Linked DNA regions of Homo sapiens: regions 1 and 2 are each reported to be linked to region 3. Evidence: microRNA targets listed by miRTarBase, many of them from high-throughput screens and not tested one by one. Region 3 holds a microRNA gene; each other region holds the end of a gene's coding sequence.

Region 1 (7,149 bases), not on the chromosome of region 3:
CAATTGTGCCTTCATCGAGTAATTAAAATGAGGAAATTTTAAGAGCCTACTCTATGCCAGGAGCATTGTCCATCCACTCATGAGAAGCATATACACTTTTGGAACTATGGCTCACATAATACCTGGCAAACTTAAAAATCTGGATACCGGCCAGGCACGGTGTCTCACACCTGTAATGCCAACACTTTGGGAGGCCGAGGCGGGTGGATCACTTGAAGTCAGGAGTTCGAGACCAGCTTGGCCAACATGGTGAAATTCCATCTTTACTAAAAATACAAAAATTAGCTGGGTGTAGTAGAACGCACCTGTAAACCCAGCTACTGGAGAGGCTGAGGCACGAAAATTGCTTGAACATGGGAGGCGGAGGCTGCAGTGAGTTGCAGTTGTGCCACTGCACTCCAGCCTGGGCAACACAGCAAGACTGTCTTAAAAAAAAATCTGGATACTGCTAAGTGAAAGTAGGGCACATGTGTTTGATCTTTCCCTCTGATCTCATAACACTTAGGAGCCCAAGGGCTTTGTAAAAAGATGGACTGATAGAAACCAGCTCACATTACTATTTTGTGCATGTTTTAGATATGGAAAGAGGTAGGTACAAACACAATGGTGATGCTTTTTCTAAAGGGGAGTGTGGACAAATCCGAAAGAGGGACATGCAAATGAAAGTCAAATTTTTAACAAAAGGTTTTTTTTTTTTCCTTTTTTCTCTTCAGCTTATAACAATCAACCAACAATGGAAACCCATTGAAGAGTTGCAAAATGTCCAAAGGGTGACCAAATGACGAGCCCTCGCCTCTTTCTTCTGAAGAGTACTCTATAAATCTAGTGGAAACATTTCTGCACAAACTAGATTCTGGACACCAGTGTGCGGAAATGCTTCTGCTACATTTTTAGGGTTTGTCTACATTTTTTGGGCTCTGGATAAGGAATTAAAGGAGTGCAGCAATAACTGCACTGTCTAAAAGTTTGTGCTTATTTTCTTGTAAATTTGAATATTGCATATTGAAATTTTTGTTTATGATCTATGAATGTTTTTCTTAAAATTTACAAAGCTTTGTAAATTAGATTTTCTTTAATAAAATGCCATTTGTGCAAGATTTCTCAAAGATTAGGTATATATTTAAATGGAAGAGAAAATATTTTTATGGGAGAAAAATACATTTGAACCATGAAATTTCATCTTTTAAATAACATCCAGTACAGATTTCTGTGTAAGCTTTTTTTTCCAAGTTCATTCATTCACTAGTAGTTTATTGAGCATCTACTATTTGCAGTATAGCTAACAAAGCCAAAATTTGGTGGGATACGAATAAAAGATGGTAAGTACAATGAGGAAAATGAAGTGGGGATGAGGTTGGAGACTCGCATGAGGACTGACCTTGGAGGAAGTGTAGGATTCTGGAGATGAATTGGAATGCAAGGCATACTGAGATCTGCCCTAAAGATGCCAAGCCAGGCTGGGCGCGTGGCTCACGCCTGTCATCCCAGCACTTTGGGAGGCTGAGGCGGGCAGATCACAAGGTCAGGAGATTGAGACCATCCTGGCTAACACAGTGAAACCCCGTCTCTACTAAAAATACAAAAAATTAGCTGGGCGTGGTGGCGGGCGCCTGTAGTCCCAGTTACTCGGGAGGCTGAGGCAGGAGAATGGCATGAACCCGGGAGGCAGAGCTTGCAGTGAGCTGAGATCACACCACTGCACTCCAGCCTGGGTGACAGAGTGAGACTCCGTCTCAAAAAAAAAAAAAAAATGCCAAGCCATACTGTGATGTTCCTGTGGAGGCTAGGGAGAGGAAGATGGGGAGCCTTGCCAGCGCTCTTCAGAGTTTGGGGCCACTCTTCCCTCTGGCCAATGGTAACTTGAAGGCTGAAGATACATTCATATCCAGCATGCCGCTGGGCTCCCCTGCCTGTCCCTAAAAATGAAATAAGAAGAAAGTTGCTTTTCATTAACTTTTTTTAAAAAAATGGAGATATAATTCACATGTCATAGTATTCACCCATTTAAATTGAACAATTCAGTGGTTTTTAGCGTATTCACAAAGTTGTGCAACCATCTCCATCTACTTTCAGAACATCTTCCTTACCCCAGAAAGAACTCTGTACCATTAGCAGTCATTTCCCTAGTCCCAACCCCTCTGCTCCCAGCCCCAGGGAAATACTAATAAACTGTCTCTATGGATTTGCCCATTCTGGACATCTCATGTAAATGGAATCAGGCAATATGTGACCTTTGGGTTTGGCTCCTTTAACTTGGTATAGTGTTTTTAAGAGTCATCTATGTTGTACCATGTTTATATTATCAGTATTTCATTACTTTTTCTGACAGTACTCTTCCAGTGTAAGGATATGCCATTTTTGTTCATTGGTAAGTTGATGAACATTTGGGTTGTTTCTACTTTTTGGCTATTATGAATAATGCTGCTATGAACAGCCATGTACAAATTTTTGTGTGGCCATATATTTTTGGTTCTCCTAAGTAGGTACCTAAGTTCGTTAACTTTTTTTTTTTTTTTTTTTTTTTTGAGACAGGGTCTTGCTGTGTCACCCAGACTAGACAGGCTGGAGTGCAGTGGCACCATCTCATAAACTTTGCCTCCTGGGCTCAAGCAATTCTCGTGCCTCAGCCTCCTGAGTAGCTGGGATTACAGGCATGCACCACCACCACACCTGGATAATTTTTGTATTTTTAGTAGAGGCAGGGTTTTTGCCATGTTGGCCAGGCTGGTCTTGAACTCCTGACCTCAAGTGATCCAACTGCCTGATCACTTGAGGAAAGGAGTGATCCCTTCCCTCCCCATTGGATCATGGCTAACACCCCTATAACAAAAGACAGGTTAACTAGAAAAAGCATAACACACTTATAGTTTACTTGACATGGTAGCCTTCAGAATGAAGACCCAAAGATATAGGGAAAACTGTTCATTTTTATGCTTATGTTCAATGAAAAGTCGATGTAGAAATATGATTGGACATGTAGAAATATGGACAAAAAGGATATGGTCCTAATGCTATCAGAATAGACTACATGGGGAAGCTCACCAAGGCCTGTCTGCAGCATTTCCTTCTGCTGGGTGTGGGGGTGGGATCCCTCTGGAATGAGTGTCTTAATTTCTTTATGGCCAGCTGTTACATAGAAAGGTGGGGGAAATTTAAGAGCAATATATTTAGGTTTTATGGCTGGCTTTCAGGAAACGGGATTCTGGCTTCTATGGCCGGTCTTGGAGAAGAGGAATTCTAGTTTCTATGGCTCACCTGGGGAAGAATCAGGGTCAACAGACAGGAGGGCAGAGAAACTTTGCTTCTGCGGCCTTCATTTGGGGTATCATTTTTTGGGCTCCAGCGTTACCTTCACAGCAATAACAAATAACTAGGTTTTGCCAGGAACTTGGCAACTCTGAGAGGATTAAAGCAAGACTGCTGCCAACTTCTGTTGCTTCCTTATCACCTCAAGTCGTCTCAGATTAAAGTCTCTGATAGTTGATCTCAAGGAATTACACGTAGCAATTGGGAAGCACATTTTTATTTGCTTAAGCTTCTAAAGTCTAATGTAATGTCATTTGCACAAATAAAAATTAACGGTTGGTCAACTAAGAGAGCAAAGTATAGAGTGTTTTTCAAGGGATGACTGTGGCTTTCAACTTTAAAACACAAACCTGATTGAAATGTGGTGGTGTGAACATGGCAATGGGAGGTACTTTTCTGCAGGTTTAGGAGGGAGAGAGGCCAAAAGCAATGTTGATGCTTAAATTTCAAAAGATTTGGGTTTTGTTGTTGTGTTCTTAGCATTTCCTTCAAACATTTTATTTTGAAATTTTTCAAATATGCAGAGAAGTTGAAAGTTACTCACACTTCTTATCAATTAACATTGTGCCACATTTGCTGTATCTCCCTGTGTATGTATGCTTTTCAAAAATTAACTCGTTGAGGCCAGGCACAGTGGCTCATGCCTGTAATCCCAACACTTTGGGAGGCTGAGGCGGGCAGATGGCTTGAGCCCAGGAGTTTGAGACCAGTGTGGACAACATGGCGAAACATCTCCACTAAAAATGCAAAAATTAGCCAGGTGTGGTGGCACACACCTGTGGTCCCAGCTACTTGGGAGGCTGATGTGGGAGGATCACCTGACCCTGGGAGGTCAAGGCTGCAGACAGCCTTGATCTCACACCACTGCACTCCAGCCTGGGCAACCCAAGTGAGACCCTGTCTCAAAAAAAAAAAAAAAAAAAAGTGTTGAGAACAAGTTACAGACATGAGGCTTTTTTCCCTAAAAATTTAAGCATGTACTCACTGCCTAAGATAAAAGACATTGTAGCTGACTAGAATACCATTATCATCCCTAAGAAAGTTAACATTCATTCAATAATATCACCTATCATAAATATGATAGTGATATCATAAATATCACCTTTTTTTCCTCTAATTGTCTCAAAAATATCCTTTATATCTGTATTTTAAAATCCAGAATCATCTACTCCAAGGTTTACTTGTTGCATTTGTCTAAGTTGTACTGAGTACTTGACTGACTTGTGGTCATGAAAATGACTCCAAAGCAGCTTTTATAGAACGGCCATCTCTACAGATAACGAGAACATTACCCGGATAACATTCTCTTACATGCAGACTTTACAATTTTTTATTTACAATCTAATAATGATGTATTTTCATGTAGTTTATAAGAGGTTGTACAATTGATGAGCACTCACTATGTGCTAGACGCTGTGCTGGCCTTGAGGCTCTTACAGCTTAGGAAAGGGATACACACATGTAAACAGCATGAGAGCAATGCCAGGACAATAAAGCAAGGACAGGAGTAGGCACATGGTATGAAGGAAAGCTTCCCAAAGAAGGTGGATCCCTGAAAGTCTACTTCGGCTGATTTCTTGAAAAAAAAAAAAAAAAAATCATCATCATTACAAGTCAGCAAGGCAATTGAAGTAGAGGCACATTTTTACCAAGACAGAGCCACCTAAAGTAGCATGGTGTCTCTTGGAAACTTGGAGTAGATTAATACAGGGAATTTTTTTTTTTTTTTTTTTTTGAGACAGGGTCTCACTTTCATTGCCCAGGCTGGAGTGCAGTGGTGCAATTACAGCCCACTGCAGCCTCGACCTCCCCAGCTCAAGTGATCCTCCCACTCAGCCTCCTAAGTAGCTGGGACTATAGGCTAGAGACTGAGTTTCGGCATGTTGGCCAGGCTGGCCTCAAACTCCTCGCATCAAGCAATCCTCCTGCCTTCGCCTCTGAAATTGCTGGGATTACAGGCATAAGCCATCCTACCTGACCAATACAGAGTATTTTTAATATTAAGAGAGATAATTGGAGAAAAAGAAGTAGGTGGAATGTGTAGGACATTTGTGCTATTATCTTCCAGGCACAAAGGAACCAGAAAAGGATTTTAAGTTGAGGGAGGAGGTAATAGTCTACTGCCAGGGGTGTCCAATCTTTTGGCTTCTCTGGGCCGCGTTGGAAGAAGAATTTTCTTGGGCCACACATAAAATACACTAACAAAATCACAAAAAAAAACCAAACTCAATGTTTTAAGAAAGTTTACAAATTTGTGCTGGGCCACACAAATACTACTAAAATAACAACTACAAAAAAAAAATTAGCTGGGTGTGGTGGCGCACGCCTGTAGTCCCAGCTACTCAGGAGGCTGAGGCAGGGGAATTGCTTGAAACGGGGAGGTGGAGGTTGTAGTTAGCCAAGATCATGCCACTGCACTCCAGCCTGCGACAGAGTGAGACTCCACCTCAAAAAAAAAAAAAAAAAAAAAAAAATGGGCCAGTTCAGGCCAGGCGCGGTGGCTCACGTCTATAATCCCAGCACTTTGGAAGGGTGAGGCTGGGTCACTTGAGATCAGGAGTTTAAGACCAGCCCGATCAACTTGGTGAAACCTCATCTCTGCTAAAAATACAAAAATTAGCCCTGTGTGGTGGTGTGCGCCTGTGATCCCAGCTACTCAGGAGGCTGAGGCAGGAAAATTGCTTGAACCTGGGAGGCAGAGGTTGCAGTGAGCTGAGATCGCGCCACTGCACTCTAGGCTGGGCAACAAAGTAAGACTCTGTCTCAAAAAAAGAAAAAAGAAAAAAAAACTGGGCCAGTTCATACCTGTTTAGGTTAGTAGTAATGATTACTTACAGGAGATAATAGCTATAAAGTACCTAAAATGGTGCTTAACATGGACTAGCTGTTCAGTAAGTATTCCCTTCTTCCTAAAGAAAAAAGATTATCCCTGTAATAACAGCACCTTGGGAGGCTGAGACAGGCAGATTGCTTGAGCTTAGGAGTTCGAGACCAGCCCTGGGCAACATGTGAAACCCTGTCTCTACAAAAAATAAAAAAATTAGCTGGGTGTGGTGACGCATGCCTGTGGTGCTATTCGGGATGCCGAAGTGGGAGGATTGCTTGAACCCAATAGGTGGAGGTTGCAGTGAGCCGAGATTGCACCACTGCACTCCAGCTTGGGTGACTAAGCAAGACCCTGTCTGAAAAAAAGGAGGTTATCACTATTAAAACTGCCGTATGTGTTTAGGATTACATTCCATGAGTGGGAGCATTGCGTGTTTCAAATCCATGCATACCCAGCTCTGTTTGAAATCTATGCATACCCGAGGACTCCTGGCCCATCTTTGGTTCACAACGCCCCAGTTACAAACCTTTTAGACAGAGTGCACACACAGCTGTAGATAAATGCATCCCATATTCACTCTCACCTACGTAGATACCTAGCTTAAAATAAGAACCCCTGCACACATAACACATATAGATGATCTCACAACCAGAAAAGACATAACAAAAACATACATATCTCCTTAGAAATAAGGCCCGGCATGGTGGCTCACAATCAGTAATCCCAGCACTGTGGGAGGCCGAAGCGGGCAGATCACTGCAGCCCAGGAGTTCGAGACCAGCCTGGCCAACATAGGGAAACCCCATCTCTACTAAAAATACAAAAAACTAGCTAGGCGTGTTGGCGCATACCTGTAATCCCAGCTACTCGGGAGGCTGAGAATTGCTTGAACCCAGGAGGTGGAGGTTGCAGTGAGCCAAGATTGCACCGCTGCACTCCAGCCTGGGTGAGAAAGCGTGACTATTATCTCAAAAAATAAATAAATAAATGTGCATATTTTAGTAATTACATATATT
Region 2 (7,149 bases), not on the chromosome of region 3:
AGGGTGCTAACCTCTGCCAGGTCCTAGAAATGGCTCCTACTTGCTATAATCTGGCATCCAAGTGGTTAAAGACACCGAATATTTGGGTGCAAATCCAAGCTTTGCCACTTACTGCCTTCGTGAAGCTTCCTAGCCCTTAGTCTCCTGGTTTGTAAAATAGGGAAAATATGCTTAGATTAGTGTCCACCTTACAAAGTGTTAGCCATTGCTACCACCAGAGTTAGGGAAGTCAGTGTCGGAGTAGATTTGAAACTGGAGGTGAAGGTAGGAGTAAGTGATAGATTTTAGAATTAGTGCTCAGAGCTGAAATATCCAGTCCGTGAACTTAGAGGCCAGCCTTCATACCACTGTGATGACAGGAACTACCCTAATCTTTTCTGTCCTTTTCTCTCTGCTGTCCCTCGGGCTGCCAGGCCAGCAGCAACACCCACAGGTAATCTCCCCGCTGACTCCATCCACTTGCTCTGCCCTCTGCCCTCTCTGTGCCCCGTTGCACCTGAGCGTACACCCCAGCAGTGGCATCCAGCTCATCTGCCCCTGAGCTTTCTCCTTTCGCAGAGACCCAGGTTGTTCCCAAATACAGGCCAGGTTGGGGCAGCCTCTGCGGCCTTAATTCACAGCTAAGCTATTTAGCTTCCAGCTGGGAGAGGGGTGGGAGAGGCCAGGCAGGCTGAAGGGCTTCCTGGGGGCTCTCCACCAATGCTATGGGATGCTCTGCCCACAGCCTGTTTGAGAGTGGCATCAATTGGGGCCGTGTGGTGGCTCTTCTGGGCTTCGGCTACCGTCTGGCCCTACACGTCTACCAGCATGGCCTGACTGGCTTCCTAGGCCAGGTGACCCGCTTCGTGGTCGACTTCATGCTGCATCACTGCATTGCCCGGTGGATTGCACAGAGGGGTGGCTGGGTGAGTATCCAAGGACTGCAATGTCCTCCCTGCTGTTGGGGCTGCCCCTCTCCCAGGCCCCACCCCTTCCTCGGGTTCCTATATCTTCTGCTAGCCTCTCTGTGACCACCTTGTTTCTCCCGGCAGGTGGCAGCCCTGAACTTGGGCAATGGTCCCATCCTGAACGTGCTGGTGGTTCTGGGTGTGGTTCTGTTGGGCCAGTTTGTGGTACGAAGATTCTTCAAATCATGACTCCCAAGGGTGCCCTTTGGGGTCCCGGTTCAGACCCCTGCCTGGACTTAAGCGAAGTCTTTGCCTTCTCTGTTCCCTTGCAGGGGTCCCCCCTCAAGAGTACAGAAGCTTTAGCAAGTGTGCACTCCAGCTTCGGAGGGCCCCTGCGTGGGGGCCAGTCAGGCTGCAGAGGCACCTCAACATTGCATGGTGCTAGTGGGCCCTCTCTCTGGGCCCAGGGGCTGTGGCCGTCTCCTCCCTCAGCTCTCTGGGACCTCCTTAGCCCTGTCTGCTAGGCGCTGGGGAGACTGATAACTTGGGGAGGCAAGAGACTGGGAGCCACTTCTCCCCAGAAAGTGTTTAACGGTTTTAGCTTTTTATAATACCCTTGTGAGAGCCCATTCCCACCATTCTACCTGAGGCCAGGACGTCTGGGGTGTGGGGATTGGTGGGTCTATGTTCCCCAGGATTCAGCTATTCTGGAAGATCAGCACCCTAAGAGATGGGACTAGGACCTGAGCCTGGTCCTGGCCGTCCCTAAGCATGTGTCCCAGGAGCAGGACCTACTAGGAGAGGGGGGCCAAGGTCCTGCTCAACTCTACCCCTGCTCCCATTCCTCCCTCCGGCCATACTGCCTTTGCAGTTGGACTCTCAGGGATTCTGGGCTTGGGGTGTGGGGTGGGGTGGAGTCGCAGACCAGAGCTGTCTGAACTCACGTGTCAGAAGCCTCCAAGCCTGCCTCCCAAGGTCCTCTCAGTTCTCTCCCTTCCTCTCTCCTTATAGACACTTGCTCCCAACCCATTCACTACAGGTGAAGGCTCTCACCCCCATCCCTGGGGGCCTTGGGTGAGTGGCCTGCTAAGGCTCCTCCTTGCCCAGACTACAGGGCTTAGGACTTGGTTTGTTATATCAGGGAAAAGGAGTAGGGAGTTCATCTGGAGGGTTCTAAGTGGGAGAAGGACTATCAACACCACTAGGAATCCCAGAGGTGGGATCCTCCCTCATGGCTCTGGCACAGTGTAATCCAGGGGTGTAGATGGGGGAACTGTGAATACTTGAACTCTGTTCCCCCACCCTCCATGCTCCTCACCTGTCTAGGTCTCCTCAGGGTGGGGGGTGACAGTGCCTTCTCTATTGGGCACAGCCTAGGGTCTTGGGGGTCAGGGGGGAGAAGTTCTTGATTCAGCCAAATGCAGGGAGGGGAGGCAGATGGAGCCCATAGGCCACCCCCTATCCTCTGAGTGTTTGGAAATAAACTGTGCAATCCCCTCACCCTGACTTAGTTTTTGTATTCTCTGCTACCCCTCTTTCCATCAGGCCAGACTGTGGGAACCTGGGCACGCCTGGCATACATCTGGCTTATTACTGAATAAAACCTCACACTAGGCCTCTAGAATCCCATAGAGGCCTGAGTATGGTTCTGCAGCCCCCACTCCGATGGAAGGCGTTCGCCCCTCCCCATGAACTTCTCTCATCTCGTTGGGTTTCATGCAGTTTCCACCCTTTAGGAAGTCTGGGAGGTCCTTTAGCTACAGAGCTGGTGGAGCAGCTGCACATATCTGAGGACCCCCACAGGCTACCTCTGACCTGGGCTGAATTCTTCTCCCACCCTGGGGCTACCACCCACGCTGGTCCAAAAGGCCCTTCTCCCCCACATTTAGCTCTGCCTGGGACACAATGTCCCAGCTCCCCCTTCCTGATGTCTCCACAGTCAGCACACACGCAGGGCTTTCATTCTAGTTTTATGCTGCTTGGGAGTCCCTATGGGTACCCAGCCAGGGGTGATAAAAATAACAAGCATGGGGGCGTTTAAATGTTCCAAAATCTACAGTCTTTCCAGTCCTGGGCACCCTGGTCTGTGTTTCTGACGCCCTTCCAAAAGGGTCACATGCAAGTCCAAGAGAACTCGTGAGTTTCACCTTCACCCTCCTGGGGTGGGCTTGCCAAGCCCCTTTTCCCTCCACAAGGTCTTCAGAGTCTAGTACAGACGCGATCTTGGAAAAGGGAAAAGGCGGCGCTGCAGGCAGTGGTGGCTGGAAGGTGGTTGCTACAAGGCACCCCGCAGTGTACAGGAAAAGCTCACAGACAACATTTATAGAACACATACTGTGTGCCAGGCTTTATGCTGAGAGTTCATCATCTGCCCAAATAATAGGTAGGAGACGGGGGTGGGGGTACTCAAACTACTATTTACAGATAAGGAAACGGGTGCTTTCTCAGAGTCACCCAAGGAGTGAGGACTTGCCACCAGGAAACTGGCTCGAGTTTTACGTGGAGGCCGGAGAGCAATGTGGGGCTCGCGAGCACAGGTTTAAGAGGCCCAGAGTGCGGGGTCGCCTCCCTCCCGGAGCGATGCCATAGAGGTTAGAAGTGGGCGGCTGCCCGAGTCCAAGATGGCCGCCGCCGCGAGCACGCAAGCGTGCCCTTCCTTGGGCGGGGCCTTTGGGGCGCACCCACTCCAGCCTCTGGGCTTTGAACAGCATGCGGCATTGAGCGGCGAACAGATCGTTGCATCGCTGGAAGAAAGGCGGGTGGGCTGTGGTTAGCCTACTCGTCTAAGGAGCTGCAACGCTAACCGGAAAGGCATGGGTGGGGCAGCCCAAAAAGTTTTGGCCTGCACCGCCCCCCAACGCCCTCTATTCCGCTGCCAGGATATTCTGAAACCAGGGGGCGAGAAGTTAGGTCGGACACAGTCAGCCAGGGGCTGCGAGGATAACGGGAGTGTAGGGGCTCTGTGGGTATTAGGGAAGAGAAACCAAAAAAACTCATTTCTACTCAAACTGTGCGCTGCTTCTGAGATTGTGGCTTGGTTTCCACCAAATACGTCTGGGTTCGTCACAGTCTGTGATGTCACTGAGCTGGGGCAGCCCGGCCAGGGAAAGGAGCGGTGTGCAGCTGTCACCTGCTTAGTTCTGCAGTTTCAGTATGAATACCCGCCCTTCCTTGCACACAACAGCCTCACATTCTCCCCACCCCCACCCTGCCGTTTTACCTTCACGTATTTATTTTTACCTCCTCTGAAGAGTATATTTTAGAGAGTCACCGAGTGTCCATCCAAACCCTTTCATTTGAAAAAATCCTTCCTTAGCCTAAAATCACTCAGTATATTGAACAAGTTATTATGACATAGTCACCTGAATGCATTAAAATAAATTTACATGTATTCATTAAACTTAAACCACCATATCCACTAGTTTTTTTTGTTTTTGTTTTGTTTTTTCACCCGTGACAAAAATGTACCCCTCCTGCTCCAGTTGTATGCACTTCAGATGTAGAGGCCCCATTTTGTAAGATGCTTGTAAAATGTGGATTTAATTTTTTTTTTTTTTTTGAGACAGAGTCTCGCTCTGTCACCTAGGTTGGATGGAGTGCAGTGGCACAATCTCGGCTCACTACAACCTCCGCCTCCCGGGTTCAAGCGATTCTCCTGCCTTAGCCTCCCGAGTAGCTGAGACTACAGGCACGCGCCACCATGCCCGGCTAATTTTTTTTGTTGTTGTTGTATTTTTAGTAGAGACGGCGTTTCACCATTCTGGCCAGGCTGGTCTCGAACTCCTGACCTCATGATCTGCCCACCTTGGCCTCCCAAAGTTCTAGGATTACAGGCGTGAGCCACAGTGCGAGGCCCAAATGTGGATTTAATTCTATCTGAGCTGAACAGATAAGGATAATCATGATTTCGTGTGTGTGTGTGCGTGCGTGCATGCGTGTGTATGTGTGCGTGCATGCATGCGTGTGTGTGTGTGTGGAGAGAGAGAAAGAGAAGGGAGTTATTGAAGGTTGCTGGAGGTGCCCAAAGGTCAGGAACCAGAATCAGCAAAACCCAGCTTCTCCTGGGGTGTGTTGAGCTGTTGCTGGACACGTTAAAGGTGAACACTGGACTCCTGGGATATAAAAGTAAGACGTGAGAGGACAGGGGATTCAGTTCACTAGAAAATAATACAACAGGCTGGGCGCAGTGGCTCATGCCTGAATCCCAGCACTTTGGGAGGCCAAGGTGGGCAGATCATGAGGTCAGGAGTTCGAGATCGGCCTGACCAACATCGAGAAACCCTGTCTCTACTAAAAATACAAAAAATTAGCCGGGCATGGTGGTGCATGCCTCTAATTCCAGCTACTGTGGAGGCTGAGGCAGGAGAATCGCTTGAACTCGGGAGGCAGAGGTTGCAGTGAGCTGAGATAGTGCCATTGCACTCTAGCCTGGGCAACAAGAGTGAAACTCTGTCTCAAAAAAAAAAGAGAGAGAACAAAAAGTAATGATTTGGCCTACTGAAGCAGATCCCTGGCATATTTTATGAGTGATCCAATGAAGGGGCACCCCGCCCCCATTACCAAGATCAGGTGATGGACTAACAGGCAAAAACTGGACTTTTCTAGGAAAGGCCACTTCATAGCTGAAGAGACTGAAACCATACAACCTCCCTTTACCTGGAGTATGGGATTTGGCAATGGACGTGGGCAGGCACCAAATGGATGCATGTGAGAGTGTGAACGTGCGTGTGGCTAAGTGTGTATGTGGCATCTGGTGAGTAACATGTGAGTGGGCATGGGTTGTTGGAATCAAAGTATGAATCAATACATCTCTTAGCTCCATTTATCTCAACTCTTCCTTTGCAATCTTGGAATCATTCCTGGTGTCCAATGTCACAATTTTTTCCAAACAGCTTTGGCTAAGGACACACTGAAGGCTCCACTGAACCTTGAGGTGAACCTACTTTGTGAAGTTCATGGCACAGACTTTTGTGATAGCTGTGTGGGGCTGGGCTCACCAACCTTCTCATGTTCTAACCTGACCTGCTCTAAGCTGACCTCTGACCCCACTGAGGGCAGCTTATCCAGTTAATTTCCAGCGGATGGTTAGGCTTCCTCAAGTGTGTGAATATTTTTTTGCTAAAGTCTCAGGTGGGCCATACTGAGGAAAGGCAAGATGCATTTGGCATGTCTGGTGTCTCTGAAATTTGGAAGCTGTGAATTAGAGTGCAAGAGGCACTTCGATGTTGGTTACCATGTCTGCTAAAAAAAAAAAAAAAAAACAGATTTGCAGGAACCTAAATAACACTACTACCAGGCTATGTGTGAGAGGGGCTGTGGGCAGGTTAAAAGCCGAGTGCTGTCCTGGTAAGGGCATGGGGGATCCCCCTGCTTGTAATGCCTAGTAGAATGGGTGAGTGTCTTTTTTTTTTTTTTTTTTTGAGATGGAATCTCACTCTGTTGCCCAGACTGGAGTCCAGTGGCACAATCTCGGCTCACTGCAACCTCTGCCTCCTGGGTTCAAGCGATTCTCCTGCCTCAGCCTCCAGCTGGGATTACAGGCTCACTCTACCACGCCAGGCTAATTTTTGTATTTTTAGTAGAGACGGGGTTTCGTCATGTTGGCCTGGCTGGTCTTGAACCCTTGACAACTGATCCGCCCCTCAGCCTCCCAAAGTGCTTGGATTACAGGCGTGAGCCACCGCGCCCGGCCGGATGAGTGTCTTAACGTGAGCTTGGACTTTCATTCTGGGTGGCCTGCAGAATGCGCTAACTAGGAATAGCCCTTCCTTTTCCTGGCAAGAGGGGGCACATCCACGCTCAGTTCACCAGGAGACTGGGGATTCTTCTGAGTATTCCATGCATGCTTTTCCGTCTCCCCAGCCCCCTCCACCAGTGGGAGGCACTGCGATGTCTACAGGACTAGGGTGTTCAAATGCTGGTGTTCTCAGACAGCTCCTGTAATGGGCTGGCACCCCAAATCTAGACTGCATGGTGCCAAGCAGCCTGGGGTACCTCCACTGACAAAGCTGCTTTTTCATGCCAGCTCTACACAAAGGCAGCGTGATGGCAGGAAGGCCCTCCCACTGGAATGCACACTGGAAGAGCGCTCGGCTGCTCTGGCTCGGGGCCCTCCCCACCCTCGCGGCAAACCCCCACCCCCAGCAGGGTGGGGAGGGTGATGAGAGGAGGGTCAAGGAACCCATGCTGCTTCTCTTGATGATTTGTTGTCTTCTCTTCCCCCAGTAAAGCCTATTCCTAGGCTGTGTCACGCTGTGGAATT
Region 3 (7,188 bases):
TCTCCTCGCAGGCTGGGCATGGGTATAGGGCAGGCAGCCCAGGGTCCTCCAGGATGACCACCTCCCGGTAGCCTGGGGCGCGGTAGCCAAAGTCCCCAGTGGCTGGTTTCCCCATCTCAGGTGGGTAGGGGTATAGCCCCTCTGACAGCGATCGGCAGAGGCGCCTCTTCTCCATCGAGGCCTCGGCGTAGCCCTGGGGGGATCCCTCATAGCCCCCGTAGGCCAGTCGCCTCCTCTCCAGGGTTCCCTCTGGCCGGTAGTAGCCCCCATTGGGAACCCCGCAGGGCTCCCGGTAGCCCTGGCGGCAGGAGCAGTGGCGGCTGAGGCCAGGCCTATGGCCTGGATACACTCCGAGGTGGGGGCCTCCGCCCACAGTGGGCTGCTCTTCGTCATCTAGGATGGCCGTCTCGCGCCCAGCTCCCCGGCCCCCACTGGCCACTCCGCAGCCTCCTAGGAGGCGATCCAGCTCCTGCCGTTCAGCAGCTGTAGGGGGCGGCCGGCCAGGGGACTCAGCAGCCGGCTCTGTGGTCAGCGTGGAGGAATGGCCTGAGTCGCTGCTGACAGAGAGCATGGGGGGTGGTGGAGGCTCTGGAGAGGGTGCCGGGGGGGTCTGCCGGGGAGGCCGCTGCACCTGGGCATAAGGACTGCCATCCAGGGGACCCCGGGTGTGGGTCAAGGAGCCTGAGTGGGGAAGAGGATCAGGGAGGGAGGGCAAGCGGGGAACAGGGAGGGAGAGAGAAAATTCATGAGAGGGGATGGCACTGGAGACAGCTGTCGGGCCGGGGGTGTCTCTCGGGAGTGGGCTCTGCCTGGGGAGGAGGGAGTGTGCTTCTCCCTGGCACCACCCCCCAGGGTCCCGCCACAACCCTGTACCTCCCACCCTGCAGGCTGCCTGCGCACCATCCACACTGTCCTCGTGGTGCTGGTTGAAGTTCTCATAGGAGTCCCAGCGCACGGCTGGCTCAGTGGTGTTGTAGTCGACAGAGACCGAGGGGTCGTTCCGTGGAGTGCTGCCTGTGGAAGGCCACTCGGGTATTGGGGAGCAGGGGAGAGGCGGCCCTCAGTCCCCAGCCCATGTCCCTGCTCTTACCTTTGATCTTCTCGGGGCTGGAGGAGAAGACAAACTCCACGGAGGCTTGGAAGGGGAACCTCTCATCTATGGGGAGTGGACAGTGAAGAACCAGGCCCCTGGCCCATACCACACTCTCCTGCCTGCCTGCCACCTGCCTGCCACCTGCCTGCCACCTGGACTCCAGCCCCAGGCCACTTGTCTCAGACTCACCAGTCCAGGCCTCGTCAAGCTGGTCCTTGGGGAAAGTGAGCTGTGGTCCGTGGATGGTGCAGGTGTGGAACTGGACTCGGAACACGAGGGTCCGGTCTGTGCCCCGGCCACCCTTGTGATAACATGTTACCTGGGAGAAAGGCAGGAGGCTGCGGATCAGGCCTCATGTCCTCTTCTGCGCTTCCACCCTGGGGACTGCCTGGTCACAGCTTCTGCCCTGCCTCGATCTCAAGGTGATCTCCCTACTCGCTCTCCAATCTGTCTCAAATTGGTGACTGTGCCGTTACACCACCAACCCCTGCCCCATCTCCAGGATTCTTCTTGTTGACAGGACCCCCCTCACCATGACATCGCCTTTGAGGAGGAGGGCTGGCTCCAGGCTGATGCAAAGCTGCTGGGGACCAGGGCCTGCAATGTGACTGTGGGGAGAGAGGAGAAGGCAGAGATGAACCAGAAGCTCCTGCGTGCAGAGGCAGCTATGCAGTCAGGGGGAGCCAGGAGACCAGAGTCTGAGCCCTGCCCAGGTGTCTAGGGAGGCTGGAGAAGCAGGAATGCAGGAGCAAGAGGGGCCCTGGTCATGAAGTGTCAGGGGCCTGGGAATAGAGCACTCACTAGACTCCAGATGTGTAGACAAGCTGCATGGACTGGTAGATTTTAAGGAAGGGCTGGAAGCCTGGAGGGGCAGAGGAGAAGGCACAGGAGGGGTGCTGAGTGGAGAGGGCCTGAAGGTGGTTCTCCCTAGGGAGCACATCTCAGGCAGACTCACCTGTGCCAGGTTCAAAGGCTGGCAGCATGGGGATGAGCACATAGTGCAGGAAGAGAGGGCTGCTGTTCATTCTGATGGAGCCAGATAGCAGCCCACTGAAGTAGCTGATATATCTGGTGGAGGGCGTGTCAAGGAGAACATAAGCCTTTTCCTCTGGAGGTCACCTTGTATCATTTCAACCATCCACCCTTAGAAGGCTCGCTCTTCTGCTCAACACTTCCTTCCCATCTTCCGGGTCACCAGAAAGTTCTTCCTTGCATCTAACCTCAATCCCTCCTGCTCCCCTCTGCCTCAAAGCTCTTTCCCCAGAGCTCTGCTTCACTTTATAGTGGCAGGCCCTGACTGTCCTTCAGGTTCTCTTTATGACTGATCTCCTCGTCTATTTATTCCCAGGTCTACTGCCTTCCACCCTACTAGCATGAAAGCTCCATGAGAGCAGGGGCTTTGTCCACTTTGAATTCTCAGCACCTGGCACGGCGCTTGGCACACTCAGTGAAAGTGTGCTGCATGAATAAGAGAGTCTTGGCCTTGGTAGCCATGAAGGGAGCTGCTCCTCTGGCCCATCCCCACCCAGGCTGCTCACCGACGCTGGGAGGGCTGCAGTTCTGTGGCCACCTTGTCCTCGCAGAATTTCCGCATGGTAAGAGTGGCCAGTGCCTGGTCCGCCCTGGGGATAGCAAGGCCAGTGTTGGGGATTAGGGATTAATCTTCATCCTGGCCTCCCATCCCTAAGCCCCAGGGGATGGAGGAGAAATATGATTCTCTAAGTCTAGAAGAAGCCCAGAGTAGTGGTAATGAGAATGAGAAGCACCATGTACAGTCACTTTACTAGTTGTTGGGCCTCAGGCAATTGTTCCCTGAACTTTAGTTTTTTCATCTGTAAAACAGGGCAACAAAACCATCTTATGGGTTGAATTATATCCCCCCAAAAGACATGTACCTCAGAATGTGACCTTATTTGGAAATAGGGCCGTTGCAGACATAATTAGTTAAGATGAGACCATACTGAAGGAGGGTGGACCCTGAATCCAATATGATTGGTGTCCTTATAAGAAGAGAGGAAGAGACACAGACAGAGACACACAGGGAGAACACCATGTGATGACAGAGGCAGCGATTACAGTGATGTGTCTGCAAACCAAGGAATGCCAAGGCTTGCCGCCCACCACTGGAAGCTAGAAAGAGACAAGGAAGGATTCCATCCCGAGTCTCAGATGGAGCAAGGGCCTGCTGACAGCTTGGTTTGGGGCTTCTGGCCTCCAGAACTGTGAGAGAGTACATTTCCACTGTTTTTTGTTTTGTTTTGTTTTTGTTTTTTTTGAGACGGAGTCTGACTCTGTCACCCAGGCTGGAGTACAGTGGCACCGTGTGGGCTCACTGCAACCTCCGTCTCCTGGGTTCAAGCAATTCTCCTGCCTCAGCCTCCTGAGTAGCTGGGATTACAGGCGCCCACCACCACGCCCGGCTAATTTTTATATTTTTATATTTTTGGTAGAGATGGGGTTTCACCTGGCCAGGCTAGTTTCAAACTCCTGACCTCAGGTGACCTGCCCACCTCAGCCTCCCAAAGTGCTGGTATTACAGGCGTGAGCCAACGCACCCGGCCCATTTCCACTGTTTTACACCACCCTGTTTGTGGCTGCCCCAGGAAACTCTACAGACCATCTGCTGCAGACTATGTTGCAGTACTAGTGATAAAAGGGAGGTGGAAGTGCTAAGCTGACAGCAAAGGACTCTCAACGAAGAGGTGGGCTCCAGGGGAGATGGGTTCCTAAGGGGCCAGCTGGAGAAAGGGCCACTGGGGAAGCAGCTACTCAGGCGCTGGGAGCCTCACCCTGCAGAGATCTTGCTGTAGTGCATGTAGGCAGAAACGATGACCCCAAGCTTGCCCTTGTTTCCCTGACAGACAGAGAGACAGGGATGAGGGTCTGGGAGCTCCAGGCTGACCTGGAACCTCCAGGCACCAGGGAACCCGAGGTCCTGGCCCACCTTGCAGTATAGTACGACCACGTGCTGTGGGTCAGCACTGAGCCATGTCTCCATGGCTTTGCAGATGGAGCACAGCTTGTCCAGGGGTGGAGCATGCAGCTCAGGCCAGCCGAAGTCTTGAACCTGGGGAGAATGCAGGGGTGCAACTGGGGCCGGGGGCCACCAACAGAGAGAGATGGGCAGGGTGGAAAGGGGACAGGGCATAGGGGTCCGGGGGCAAGGCTGGGGGTCTGCTGGTTGTCCATGATAGCCTCGGCACTTTCCTTATCCATACAATGGGCTGATACCTGCTGCATCACGTTTTGGGGTGTCTCCAGTAATATATCATGGGAGAGTGGGAAAGTGCTTAAGAGTGAAGTAGATGCCAATTGCTACTATTAATAACGAGGAAGCTGGGGGCTTCTGGGGTTGGGGTGGCTTGGTTTAATGGTTGGGCAGGCCATTTCCTTCATACCTTGGGGTTTAAGCGGGTCAGGTCATGCCTTTTCTCTGAAAGGTTGAAGAGCTGAAATAAAGGGGGAGGGCTTTAGACAGAAATGATCTCCGGCAATGAGGCACGAGGTGGAGGTGGATCCTAAGTAAGAATCTTCCTCTAAAATAAGGTGCAGGCCGGTCGCAGTAACTCACGCCTATAACCCCAGCACTTTGGGAGACCAAGGCGGGCGGGTCACCTGAGGTCAGGAGTTCGAGACCAGCCTGGCCAACATGGTGAAACCTCATCTCTACTAAAATTACAACAATTTGCCGGGTGTGGATCGCTTGAGCCCTGGAGTCTTGAGACCAGCCTGGCCAACATGGCGAAACCCCGTCTCTACAAAAAATACAAAAAAAAAAAAAAAAAAAAAAAAAAATTGGCTGGGCGTGAGTGACGCACGCCTGTAATCCTAGCTACTGAGGCTGAGGTGGGAGAATCGCTTGAGCCCGGGTGGAGGAGGTTGCAGTGAGGTGAGATCGTGCCACTGCACTCCAGCCTGGGCAACAAAGTGAGACCCCGTCTCAAAAAAAAGGTAAATAAATAAAGAAAATAAAAAGGTAGCTAAGGCCCGGCCTAGCCAGTCACAGCCAAGTCGCCAGCGTTCCAGGATTCTCCGCTCCGCTCCAGGCCGCGCTCCGGGCCCCGCCCCCACCCCACCACTCTGGTCCCGCCCCCTGGCGGCCTCGCCTCCGCTGGTGACGTCAGTGATTAGCCTCGCCCATCTGGACCCTACATCCCTCTCATTGGCGGACTCCTGATGGCCCCGCCCCTCACCAGGTACTTGTCCCGGTGCTTGGATTGCAGCACATGGGCCAGCTCGCGCAGGTGGCCCCGGTGCCGCTGTTCATCGGGCCGCGCGGGGAAGGCGGCGGCCAAGATGCGCTCCGTCACGTAGGTGAGGTCTAAGTCCCAGCGCCGCTCCATGAGCGGGTCCAGGCTGAAGCTCCTGGGGAGGAGGAGCCTACGCATGAACGCAGGGGCGGGGCACCCGGAGGTGGCTAGTGTGACGGGAAGGCTGTCTGTTGGGCAGCAGGTGAAGCCTGCTGGGTCCTGAGGGTGGGTGGATCGGTCTGGAGGGAGAATACCGCTTTGGGGGTGGGGGGCTGTCCCGGGGAGCTCTGTTGCGGGGCAGTGCCCTGGGCTGAGGTGTGGGGCCGGCGGAAAGGGGGTCACGTGGGACCACCCCAGCACCCTCACTTACCTGGGCAGAGTGCTGCGCTGCTTTGAGTGGTTCAGAGATTTGGTGGATCCCTGGTGGTTAACAGACAGTGTCTAGACATCTCTTTGGGTACCCCCTACTCTAGACTGCCCACTCCAGAGCCATGCCCTTTTTGTCTTCAGGAAATCTAGATCCTTACTCCCAAAGCTACCTGCTTCCCCCTCCTGCTCCAGCATCACCTTACCAGGTGCTCTATGCGCCTGACTGGGGCCGTGTTTCGCCGCTAGAGGGAGATGGGGGAGGAAAAGGGAGTGGTTAGTTACAGCAGGGGCAAGGACCAATGTGGGCCTTGGGGACAGGGGAAGGGAATGTCAGTGTCCTTTTGAAGGCTGTACTGGATAAGGGGAGAGGAGTCCTACCCCCAGCAGGCCCAAGGGCACAAGATCAGCAGAGGACTCAGACAGTTTTTTCTTTCCTCATAGGATGAGCAATACCCACAGCACTCCGTTCAAGGTCATCTCCTGGGGGCCCTCTCTGGAGCCACCAGACCTCTGGACACCATGGCCAGGTTCCTTGCCCTCCCCACCCCATCCCAGAGCGCACTCACCAACTCCACGGGAGGCAAGGCCTGACAGGCTGAAGTCACCTGGAAGGGGACCGAGTAAGGAACTGAGCTCCTGGTGAAGGGCTCTCGTGGGCTTGAGGATGGGGCAGCCCCTCAGCTTCAGGAGGAAGGTGGAGGGGCCTTCAGTGGATGGGCACAGGCTCCAGCTGAGGTTGCGCTATTTAAGGGCACCTCCCCTCTGGCCTCTTGGTCCCCCACCCCCCAGGCCCCCCACTTGTTGCTCTTGGCGCTCAGCCCCCAGCCCACACAGACCCCCATTCATCCAGCTGTAGGGCAGGAGTTATATATAGAGCCAAGCAGGCAGGCCATGGCCAGGGATGGACACTGGCTTCTTTCACCGGGAGACCCCGCCCCTGGGCACACAGCTCCCCCAAGCCAGCTCCAGGGCCCTGGGATCCTCCTCCCCCTGTCCTGAAGGAAGAGGACCAGGGGACCTCTTCAGAGACAGGGCTGTCTCAGGTCCCCAGTGGACAGTGGGTGCTATCCACAGCTTATACCTGGAAAGGCCCAGTTTTTCCAGGGCCCAGGACAAGACCCGCCCAGGCATTTTGAGGACCCTTCCCCAGAGGGAAGGCACAGCCCATCCGGCTGCCCAGTCTCTGAAATCCTGCTCCCCCACTCCCCACCCACCCCACCCTTCCTCCTCCTCATTCTCCTCCTCTTCCCCACCCCCATCCTCTCGCCAGCTGCAGTCTGGGCACAGCACCAAGACAAACGCTGTCTTGCTGTCCACCCGCCTGGGCTGGCCAGCCCTCCAGAAGGCGGAGTAGGGTGGTTCTTAAAGGGCCCAGTACAGCACCCCTCCCACCCAGGAGGGGTTCCCCAGTGGTGAGAGGGGTGGAGGTGGAGGGTTGATGCCAGTGTGGTTGCAGAAGCCTGTTTGGGAGGAGGA

What was found. The annotated mature microRNA hsa-miR-6757-3p reads AACACUGGCCUUGCUAUCCCCA and lies in region 3 at 2,717-2,738, opposite strand. An mRNA with a match to its seed (bases 2 to 7 or 8) in the 3' UTR can be bound and repressed. Matches are read on the target gene's strand: a 7mer-m8 pairs with bases 2 to 8, a 7mer-A1 pairs with bases 2 to 7 and ends in A, and an 8mer does both.
Region 1: miRTarBase lists COXFA4L3 as a target of hsa-miR-6757-3p. Seed matches in the 3' UTR shown: 7mer-m8 at 861-867.
Region 2: the mRNA of BAK1 is a reported target of hsa-miR-6757-3p. Seed matches in the 3' UTR shown: 7mer-A1 at 2,131-2,137.

Annotation. Positions count from the first base shown.
Region 1 is chr15:45,432,235-45,439,383 of GRCh38, forward strand. It overlaps COXFA4L3 (cytochrome c oxidase associated subunit FA4L3), which reads left to right. Exons shown (of 5, transcript NM_197955.3): 5 at 714-1,106. The coding sequence ends at 782. It overlaps MIR147B (microRNA 147b), which reads left to right and starts at 816; the gene lies at 816-895. LOC107987223 (a long non-coding RNA gene) reads right to left here. Exons shown (of 2, transcript XR_001751510.2): 2 at 1,235-1,916.
Region 2 is chr6:33,567,790-33,574,938 of GRCh38, reverse strand. BAK1 (BCL2 antagonist/killer 1) reads left to right here. Exons shown (of 6, transcript NM_001188.4): 5 at 725-905; 6 at 1,032-2,387. The coding sequence ends at 1,136. Among named protein-coding and RNA genes, the nearest start is that of BAK1, 8.9 kb to the left of the region's middle. RefSeq lists an enhancer at 3,233-3,522.
Region 3 is chr12:53,052,540-53,059,727 of GRCh38, reverse strand. It overlaps MIR6757 (microRNA 6757), which reads right to left and starts at 2,784; the gene lies at 2,716-2,784. It overlaps TNS2 (tensin 2), which reads right to left. Exons shown (of 29, transcript NM_170754.4): 4 at 6,279-6,317; 5 at 5,916-5,954; 6 at 5,714-5,763; 7 at 5,287-5,458; 8 at 4,492-4,542; 9 at 4,038-4,160; 10 at 3,883-3,947; 11 at 2,632-2,715; 12 at 2,049-2,161; 13 at 1,895-1,955; 14 at 1,626-1,701; 15 at 1,283-1,412; 16 at 1,091-1,156; 17 at 901-1,014; 1 more. TNS2-AS1 (TNS2 antisense RNA 1) reads left to right here and starts at 5,290. Exons shown (of 4, transcript NR_033854.1): 1 at 5,290-5,407; 2 at 6,154-6,332. RefSeq lists an enhancer at 6,008-6,247.